Linked DNA regions of Homo sapiens: region 1 is linked to region 2. Evidence: fine-mapped expression QTL. Tissue or cell type: whole blood. Region 2 holds a variant in brackets; the other region holds the start of a gene. All regions are shown on one strand. Distances are between the middles of the regions. Region 1 holds the start of EVC (EvC ciliary complex subunit 1). Region 2 overlaps EVC (EvC ciliary complex subunit 1).

Region 1 (5,050 bases), 21 kb after region 2:
TGCAATGGTGCGATCTTGGCTCACTGCAACCTCCGCCTCCCAGGTTCCAGCGATTCTCCTGCCTCAGCCTCCTGAGTAGCTGGGATTACAGGCTCCTGCCACTATGCCAGCTAATTTTTGTATTTTTAGTAGAGGCAGGGTTTCACCATATTGGCCAGGCTGGTCTCGAACTCCTGACCTCAGTTGAACAGCTCGCCTTGGCCTCCCAAAGTGCTGGGGTGACAGGCATGAGCCACAGTGCCCAGCCTGGGCATTATCTTTTGCAGGCAGCCAGGAGTCACTGGAGGTGTTTAATCAGGAGAATCATATTGTCTGACATACATTTTATAAATAAAAACTAGAGGGAGGAGACAGGAGGAAAAGAATCTCATTAGAAAGAAGGTTGTCGCAAGGATCACATCAAACTGTAACAAAATCCTATTAGTCCTACTTTGAGCCACAGACCCCTCCATGGCTGCCACCCTGGTCTGAGCCACCATCACCCTCAACTGACTAGCTGTGCAAACCCAGATGGCTTGGTTAATCCCGGTAAGCCTCAGCTGACTCAGCTAGCAAATGGGATACTAACCACCACCTCACCAGGTAGCAGATACTTAAGGCTCTAGCTTTGGGGTTCAAACCAACTAGGGTTGAAATTCAGTCCCACTGTTTACTCATCGTGGCACCCTGGACAAACACCCTTGCAGAGCATCCCCTGCCTCACTGTAAAGTGGGGATAATGGCAGTTCCTCCACCTCATGGGCTGGAGGATAAAGAACCAGATGTCTATAAACATTGCACAGGACACCCAGCCAAGTCTCTGTGTGTTACTTCCCTTTCTCTCTCCATGCAACAAGCCAGCATCTCTTAGTGTCTCTTAATCACCAGCAGGATCTGACAACCCCCAACTCACCTACGAGCATCTTGCATTATCTCAGTTTCAGCCCTCATCAGCTCTTTGCGGTGTAATGCTCCCCATGAGTCACCAAATTCCCCTATATTCTGAAAGAGCCTGTGCCTACATGGAAACCGCACAAGATCTGTCTCATCTTCCCACGGGCCAGAAATGGGGGTAGCAAGACCACGCCATCTTGTTTCTGATCGCGCAGACTTTACTCTCCTCCCACCCCAAAGAGGCAGAAGTTGCAAGGACCTAAAATAGTGGCCATACCACTATTCATGGAATGCCTGCTATATGCCAGGTGTTGCCATGCACAGCCAATTCCATGAGGGCCACTTGCATAGGAAGCATCCACTGGTCTCCTTCAGGCAGCCACCCCGACCCTCATCCATGAAGAACACAGTGGCTTTGGGGTTAGACACTTCTGTCACTTTAGTAAGTTGCTTAACCTCTCTGTGCCTCAGTTTCCTCATCTGCAAAGCAGAGACAAACTGTTGTGGAGATTCATTGAGATCATTTAGGGAGAGGGTCTAGTTCAGTGCCTGGTACACAGCACTTAATAAACGCTAGCATTGCCAGCGTCCCATCGCAGACTCCCCATGCGGTGTCATAACCGATAGTTTACTTGCAAACTTGCAATTCGTCCTTCTCCTTGAGGTTCACAGCCTCAAGGCAGGGTCTCTCCCGCTCATGAATGTCGTCCCTAGGCCAGTGACTGGCTGTAGAAGGTGCCTGAAAACTTTTACTGTGGGGTGAATGAAAAAATGAATGCCAATGTGGCAGCTGGGACTCAGGCCAGGCGACGTAACCCACACCGCAAGGATGGAAGAGGCAGAAGCAGGAATAGGCATTCAGGCGTGGGAGCCCCAGCCGTCCTTCTGTCCACCATGGCGAGCAGGGCCAGCGTCCTGTCCAAACCCTTGGTGCTGCAGATGAGGAGACCGAGGCGTGGCGCAGTTGGGCTGCTGTCAAGGATCACCCAACGGAGTGGGATGTAACAGGCACCGCAGGGGACCCCAGGCCAATGCCCTTTAGTCACGCCGCCACCTCCCTCCTGGAGCAGAAGGGGAACCCGACGCCTAAGCGGTTGCGTGCGAAGTTCCCAACCAGGCTCAAGGAGTCGCAGAGCCGGGGCTCCGGGCCCGCAGGACCCAGAAGCCACGCGCCCCGCGCTCCCCGCCCCGCCGCTGTCTGCTCGGCCGACCCACCTGGTGTCGCGTGCGCTGGCGGCCCGCGCGGCAGCCAAGCCAAAGGCCGAGGCCGAGGCCGAGCGCGGCGCCCAGCAGCACGGCGGGGGCCAGCAGGGCGGGCGCCGGCCGCAGCGCGTCCCGCCCCAGCAGCAGCCGCGCGTCGCTCTTGCAGGCCGCCCCGCCGCGGGCCATCCGGGGCGCTCAGGCTGCCGCCCCGCCGCATCCCGCCGCCTGCTGCACCGTCCCCGCCAGGGCGGCGACGCGGGACTTGGAGCCCGGGCGGGCCAGGGGCGCGGCCCGCTCCGCAGACTTTCTGGCCTGTGCAGTCTCCCGACTCCTGCTTCTCTCCCCTTCCCTGCTTCGCCGAGCCGGAGGGAGGAGCCTGGATCACCGCTCAAAACTTTCAGCCACCCCCGCCCCAGCCCTGCCCCTGCACTGAGCATGCCCAGAGACAGACGCGCCTCCCAGCCCCGGACCCTTCCGGAGGGGGGCCCGGTTTCCACCCCTTTAACTTTACTGAGGCTTAGAAGGCTCCTTTAAGTTTTTTGAGGCTTAGAATATGCTACGCATTTAGCTTAATGATCTCATTAACTTTCTCAATAACCCTCTGCGGTGGGTGCTCCGCCCATCCTCCTGATGAAGACGCTGGGATCAATGCAATTCCAACCCCCTGCCCTTGCCCCTAACCTCTACCCATCAACCTTCCCGGGAACACACCGCCCTCCACGCCTCTGAACTTGCTCACGCGAAGACTCCTGTTTTAATCTTATTTTGTCCCAGGGAAGGTCGAGACAATGGGTGGAGACACCGTTACACTCAGTCTCCACTAGGAGGATGGGTAAAGGGATCCTTACACCCAGACCCCACTGAGACGATGGGTAGAGAGACCCTTACACCTAGTCCCCACTAGGACCAAGGGTAGAGAGACCCTTACACCCACTCCCCACTGAGACAATGGATAAAGAGACCCTTACACCCGCTCCCCACTAGGACCAGGACACTGCACCATCCTTCATTTACTCAGCACTTGGAGAGAATCTGTTGTGTGTGTGTTGCAGGCTGGGGGATAGGCCAGCCACAAACCAGGCAGTGTCCAGGCTAGTGAGTATCTCACAGTTGTTTAGAGTGATAAAAAATTAAAGGAGTTCATCACTGTGTTTGCTTTAAACAAACATTTATGGGGTAGCTACTAGATGTTTGCTTTTGTCCTGGGTGCCTGGGTAAAGCACACATGCACATGCACGACTGCACACTTGCACTCAGGGGCACACACACACACACACCTACCCTGTGGAGCTTAATTCCCTGTGTGGGCCGGGCTAGGGGACACCATGGGGATCTGCTTCAGCAGAGGAGGGCTTTGTCCTTTCAGCCTAGATGTCCAGCTTGTTTCTAGTTTGTTTCATCATTTCCTCATGGCAAGATGGGAACTGTTATCCAAATTCTTCATCTTTTTTTAATAAATGAAGAAACTGACAGCTGGAGAGGAGAGGTGACTCATTTGCAATTAAGGAGTGGGGCAGAATTCTTGTCTCATTTACACCTGTGTCTGGCTTCAGGGCAAACTCTCTGCTATGTGGAGCTTCTTATATATTACCTTAGAAGCATCTCCAAGGTTCCTGGGGACATGTATGGGGGCAATAACTTGACGCTCTTGTTTTACATTTCCATGAATGCTTAGGCTTTAGTTTTTAAAATGTGGTGTTTGGGCCAGGTGTGGTTGCTCACGCCTGTAATCCCAGCACTTTGGGAGGCTCAAGTGGAGGATTGTCTGAGCCCAGGAGTTTAAGACCAGTCTTGGCAACATAGTGAGACCCTGACTCCATAAAAAATACTAAGGAGATTTTTTAAATGTAGGGTTATTTGCTTTTTACTTTATCATAAAGTTGTTGACTATTAAATTAACCTTTAAATGACTGACTGTCAAACAACTCCAACGGTCCAGCAACATGCTTGGCATTTAGCCTGTGGTCTTGTCACATGCCTGACAGCTGCCACGTACCCCCTGGTGTGGGGAACTTGGCTTATAAATTCTCAGCTTCTCGAACCCCATGGCCTTGTCCATGTTAGGTCAGGAAAGGCCTGTCCTTGGATGGTCTGGGTTATGGGGAGAGAGGCTGCCAGGGGCCAGGCTCGCTGGCCTGAGACTTTATAGACAGCCTAACAGCCTGCCCCGCAGGAAGGCTGGCGGGAGTGGAGCCCTCCCCCGTCAACAGGTGTCAGCTGTCACCCAGGACCTAGGCAGGGATGAGGAAGCACACAAAAGGCTCCACCAGTCCCCCTTTTTGTGTCTTTCTCCTCCTCCTCCTCCTGCGTCCCTTGGCAAAGCAAATCCCTGTCCCCTCGGAGAGTTCAGGGAGAGCTTGCTTAGGGCTGCGACTTCAGACACCAGCTCCCCTCTTTCTAGGTCCCCAGAGAGGTGGCCCAGCGGCTGGCCTGTTTCCCACTGGGAATGCGAGGGGCACCCGGGCCGGCCCAGGGCTGACCCACAGCAGGCTCGGGCAGTGGGTGCTCAGCTGGTCTGCACTGAACGCAACCGGAAGTGAGGGTCCTTTTCCTTCTCTGCGGCCACCCCCTCCTCCCCGAGCTTTCCTGAACCTTCTGGGTGCTCCAGGACTCCCGGCCCCGCGCTCCAAATGCTTCTCCGTTTTCTAAGCGGGGATGGGGAAACTCTGGATTCACATCCGTGTGTCAGGAAACCGTTCCCAGGGGAAGTGCGTCTGAGCTGAGGCTTACAGACCCAGGTAGGCGGTAGCGGAGGGGCCCTTGGGGTCCTGGTAACCTCGGGGAGCAGGGGAGTGACCCGCTCTGATTCGGTTTGGGCGCAAGCAAACCCAGGCCTGGCCGCCGGGCGCCTGGGCCGCGCCAACTCGCTCTCCCCCTCCCACGCCCGTCCGGCACCTCCTGGCCCGCCAAGCCCCAGATGCGGGTGTTTGTTCCAGAAAACTTTCGGCGGCGGCTCGCACTGAGCATGCTCGGC
Region 2 (5,000 bases):
CAGCCTCCATCTCCTGGACTCAAGTGTTCCTCTCACCTCAGCCTCCTGAGTACCTAGGACTATAGGCACACACCACTGCACCAGGCTAAGTGTTTGTTTGTTTGTTTGTTTTTGTTTTTGGTAGAGATAGGGTTTTGCCATGTTGCCCAGGCTGGTCTCAAATTCCTGGGCTTAAGCAATCCTCCCACCTCAGCCTCCCAAACCCTGATATTATAGTCGTGAGCCACCATGCCTGGCCTCCAACGTGATGTTCTTGCTCTTCTCCAGTTTGTAAGAGTGCCCTGTAGACATATCTGTGTGTCTGTCCACCTGTTTCTAGCTCTCCTCTTTCTCTCATCTGCCTTCTCTCTGTAGGGTCTCATTCCTCATTCAGTAATTCAGAGAATGTGCCTTATGGAGAAATAACACTTTTTTTTAACCCCCGTCATCTTGATGCCTGAATAAACCCACCGGGGTTCTGCGGCTAAAGTGGGACTCCTCTCTCTGGCTTCCCATAGCTCAGGTCCGTGGCTGATTCAATCAGAGGCCAGGTGCATCTGGCAGAGACTAATGTTGTTTTCCCCACATCCACAGTTCTGAGTTCTTGTTCATTCAGTCAAGAGAACACGTGGCCCCATGAAAAGGTACTGAACTTCTCATCTCAGTGCCACTCCTGCAGCTTTATAACTTTGGGTAAATCCTCTGCCCTGTGCCTCAGTTTTCTCACCTGCAGAGTGGACATGATAATGACACCCGCCCCTCTGGGTTGTGCTGAGGTTTAAGTGTAATACTCCTGGGACCTCGTACATAGCAAGACTCAAGAAAATTCATGCTCATAAATATTCTTATCATTATTATCATTCCTTTAAACATATTGTTCTCTTTTAAATATCTTTTATCTCTATCTCCAGCAGGAGGTGTAGCCCGGGAGGAGGCACTCATCTTTCTGCTGAGGCCCCTACAGCTCTGGTTGAAGTCAAGGCCATGCCCCACCAACAGGCGTGAAGTGCTTTTCCATTTTGTGGCTGCATGCCTGACAGCGCCGCTTTCCCCCACCTCACAGCGGCTCTGTTTCCACTGATGTCTGCCTCTCAAGGGTCTCTGGGACTCACTGCACACAGAGTCCTTGTCTCCCAGCTCCTGTCCCCATGAAAAGGAGGGAATGCGAACATCTCCACCTACCATATGCTTTTCCTGCCTCAGTGCCGTGTCCAAATGCAGCAGGTCTTTTAAGTGAAGGCTGTAGATACACAGGTCAACGTCTACACTGCAAAATAAAATGAGAAGCGGAAAAGACTTTCAGGGTATCGGAAATGAAGAGTAAGAATATTGGCACGTCCCTCATCAGTACAAGCCACAGCACACCCTGCCTCAAACTCTCATTCTGCAGCATGCTGAGGTCCTTACGCTCACTCCAGGTTTATAAGAAGGGATCAAATGAGCTGTTTGAAACCCACTAATGGCCATAAGAGAACAGTTGGTGTCAGAGACATAGGTGCCTGGGACTTCCAAGAGAAAACCAATGGAGAGAGGGAAGGGAGAGAAATAAAAATGACGTTTCCTCCTTTGAGTATTTTCTAAAAAAAAATTTATTTACTTATCTTTTTAGAAATAGGGTTTTGCTCTGTCTCCCAGGCTGGAGTGCAGTGGTACAATCACGGCTTACTGCAGCCTCCACCTCCCGGGCTCAAGCAATCCTCCCACCTCAGCCTCCCGTGTAGCTCGGACTACAGGCATGCACCACCATACCCGGTTGATTTTGGATTTTATTTTAGAGATGGGGTCTCACTATGTTGCCTGGGCTGGTCTTAAACTCCCGAGCTCAAGCAATCCACCCACCTTGGCCTCCCAAATGTTGGGATTACAGGCATGAGCCATGGTGCCCAACCTCAAGCATTTTCATGTCTATCATCACGTGTCACCTTTCCTCGGTGCCTTAGCAGAGACATTCTCATGCCCATTTTACAGATGCAGAAACTGACTCAGGGAAGAGAGAATCAGACAAATCAAGTGACCATCATAGGGTCAACGGGGGCAGATACATGGCAGAGTGTAAAAGTCTTTGACCTTTTTTCCCTCATAGGCAAATGCATTTTAAATGATGACTCTCCCACCCAAACCGTTTCAAATCCTCTAAGTCCCAAATGCTGAAAGCAAGCCGTTCTAAGCCAGGGCTGGCCAGTCCAAGAAGGCCCCTCTTCAACGAAGTCCCTTCTGCCTGGGCCACTTTCAGGCTCAAGGTGCTGAGCCCAGTGTTTCTGCAGCAACTCTGAGCAGAGGCTGTGCCCTGGATCATCCCACCTCTTGGACTCAGCGGAATTTTGGAGCAGAGAGAGGCCTGAGGCCTGGTGTGTGAACCCGCCAGACTGAGCTTCTTAAGCCCCCACCACGTGCGGAGCCCTGCTCTGGGTTGGGTCAAATCCGGCTCCGTCACTCACGGCTGTGTGACCAGCAAGTCACGCAGCCTCTCTGTGTTTCCCTTTATTCTTTGTGAACTGGAGGAAATGACAGTACCAACTTCATAGGGGTGTTAAACGGAATTCATTCACTCACTGATTAATATTTACTGATTGCTGAACTTGTCCCAGGATCCCCCTCACTGGGCAAAATCCTCATGA[G/C]ATCATCAATCCCTGTAAAGTGCTTAGCACTCTGCCCGGTACTCAGAAGTACCCACTTAATCAACTTCGCCAGTAGCTGGGAGCACGCCAGTGATTAAATGAGGCCTCCCTGTCATCTCTCCCCGGGGCTCAGGCCTGACTCCATAACCCCAGTGTTGGGCAATACAGCACAGGAAGTGACAAAGGCCTCTGGGGCTCCGATGGTGACGCTGGGTCGCTGTGTGTCCCTGGCAGAGTCACTGAACCTCTCTGGGCCTCTGTTTCCTCCTCTGACAATGATGTGACTCCCGGCCCACTCCAAGAGGACTGGAAGCCTCATCCTCCATTGCCCGCTCTCCTTACCTCTCGCAGGCCAGCACTTCAGGGAAGGCGTTCACCCGGAGGAAGGTGCGGCTGAGAAACCTGTCATCGCTGGTGGCCGAGTGGACGCTGGATGAGGAGCTGCAGTCGTCCTTCTCACCCTGGCTCAGGCTCCCCAGACTGCTGGAAGGAGAGGCCTCTACCGGCTGGTGTGGCAAAACAGCCTGCTTTAAGTTTTCATGCAGAGACGGGTTGGAGGAGCCATCGGCCAGAGGCTGGGGTGGCAGTAGGAGTCACACTCAGTCCATGTGATGCCTCTGGGATTTGATCTAGTATTCATAATTCTACCAGTGATTCACGCTAGCCGCTCACAGGAAGGTCTGCCTGGAGGAGACTGGCCAGGGTGCCAGCAGACACCACAGAGTTTCCGTCCCAGGTTCTGCCACATCGACAGCCCAGAGGCCCGAATCACAGTTCACTTGTCCTCACAAGGCCAGCCCCTCTGCACCAGGTTCCTTCCCCTAAACTGCCAACCTGGATCTGTGCCCCGGACACCCAGCGCACCCTCCTCCCAGCTGCCAACTCTGACCTACCTCCTCCATAGCCACCGCTTGCCCTGACCCAGTTCTCTCCTTGCTGCTGACCCCCTGGCCTGCTCCCTCCACGAATCCTGCCAACCACCTGTCCTTCGCCTGCACAGAGCAGGAGTCACCCTCCTGCCCTCTGCCCACCGACAGGCTCCACGCTCCTAATCAAGAAGCTGGAACACCATGCACACCATGCACACCACGCCCACAGGAGGTCACAGCCTGGGGCCTGGCATGGCTAGAGGGCCCAGCAAATGTCAGCCTCCACCTCTGGCTGCCCGAGCCACAGTGAAGTGGCTCTGGCTTAGACGCTCCTGGTGACTTCATAATTCTGGCCTTTCCAGACTTTGGTCCCCCTACCTGAAACACCCCCCATTTGTTGTTTGCTGGGCAGAAGCGTCCCTTCCTCCAGGCGTGGATCCTGGACCCCATACTGGCTCCACAGGTCCCTGGGGATCTGCCTCTTGCCTATTTCATCATGCACTGTCCTGCATTCTCGGTGTATTTCAATCCACTCAGGCAGTGAGGGCCTCCAGGGTGGGGCTGACGCTCTGCTGACTATGGCGTGATCCCCAGGGCCCACGCAGGGCCTACCCAGAGGATGGAGAAATGCCCTTCATCCACCCACCCGTCCCACCCTTCAACCACGTGAAGGATGTGGTTCCCAATGTGGGTTCCAGGGAACAGCTCCTTGAGCCAGTTACTGCTCACCACAAAGTTTCCATGGAAAAATTAGTTCGGTAAAGCTTGTGTTAAACAAGGTGAAATATTCCTTTGGTGCAGGAATTCTCAGAACCTCCAATAGGCTTTGGGTGTCTTCAAAAGCAAATAATAATTGACAAGATCCTAACATGTTGTGAGTGCTCAGATGTTGTGCACTGTTCTGAGCCCTCATGTATGTTATCTTGTGTAACACCCAAAACAACTGGGCGAGGCAGGAGCACCATCATCCCCATTTGACAGATAAACAGACTGAGGCAGGAGAAGTCAGGAAACGCCACACAGTGAATGGCTGAGATGGGGTTAGGACTGAGATGCTGTGACTCCAGAGCTCGTCATCCTGAATACCAAGAAAGCAAGCCACATTTTCCCAAACTTATTTCACTAGGAAACTTTTTTGCACAAAGCACCTCCCAGGCTGAGGGCTCCTGGAAGCGCCATGGAAGGTGTAACCATAGCCAGGTGTTGGGGTCTGACTCTGGCTCTGCCACTTCCTGTCACGTGACCTCAGGTCACTCGCCTCTCTGGGCCTCAGTTTCCTTACGTGTAAAGTGGAGACATTATTTACCTGATAGGCATAACACCAAGTTGAAACGCCTGATGCATGACAAATACTTAACACAACACTGGCCCTGTCCACATAAGTGTTCAGTAAGTGCCAGCTGCTGGCATTATTAGTCCAGGGCTCTGTGAATGAGGATTAGCGCTCAGAACTGAGTCGGTATCAGTGTTTGTATTAGTGTTAAAAAGGCAGAGAGGGAGCTGTCCTACTGTGCTGTTACCTCGTGTCCCTGGG

Evidence for each region. PIP is the estimated chance that this variant, and not a neighbour inherited with it, causes the effect.
Region 1: it holds the start of EVC, and the variant in region 2 is fine-mapped to the expression of EVC in whole blood (TOPMed, PIP above 0.99).

Annotation. Positions count from the first base shown.
Region 1 is chr4:5,708,593-5,713,642 of GRCh38, reverse strand. EVC (EvC ciliary complex subunit 1) reads right to left here and starts at 2,442. Exons shown (of 21, transcript NM_153717.3): 1 at 2,089-2,442. The coding sequence starts at 2,262. It also overlaps a transcript of EVC2 not described here. RefSeq lists enhancers at 799-1,108, 1,694-1,763, 4,525-5,050 and silencers at 2,234-2,383, 2,434-2,483, 4,995-5,044.
Region 2 is chr4:5,729,597-5,734,596 of GRCh38, reverse strand. It overlaps EVC (EvC ciliary complex subunit 1), which reads right to left. Exons shown (of 21, transcript NM_153717.3): 4 at 2,940-3,172; 5 at 1,162-1,246. Among named protein-coding and RNA genes, the nearest start is that of EVC, 21 kb to the right of the region's middle. The variant G/C (reference allele first, on the strand shown) is at 2,598.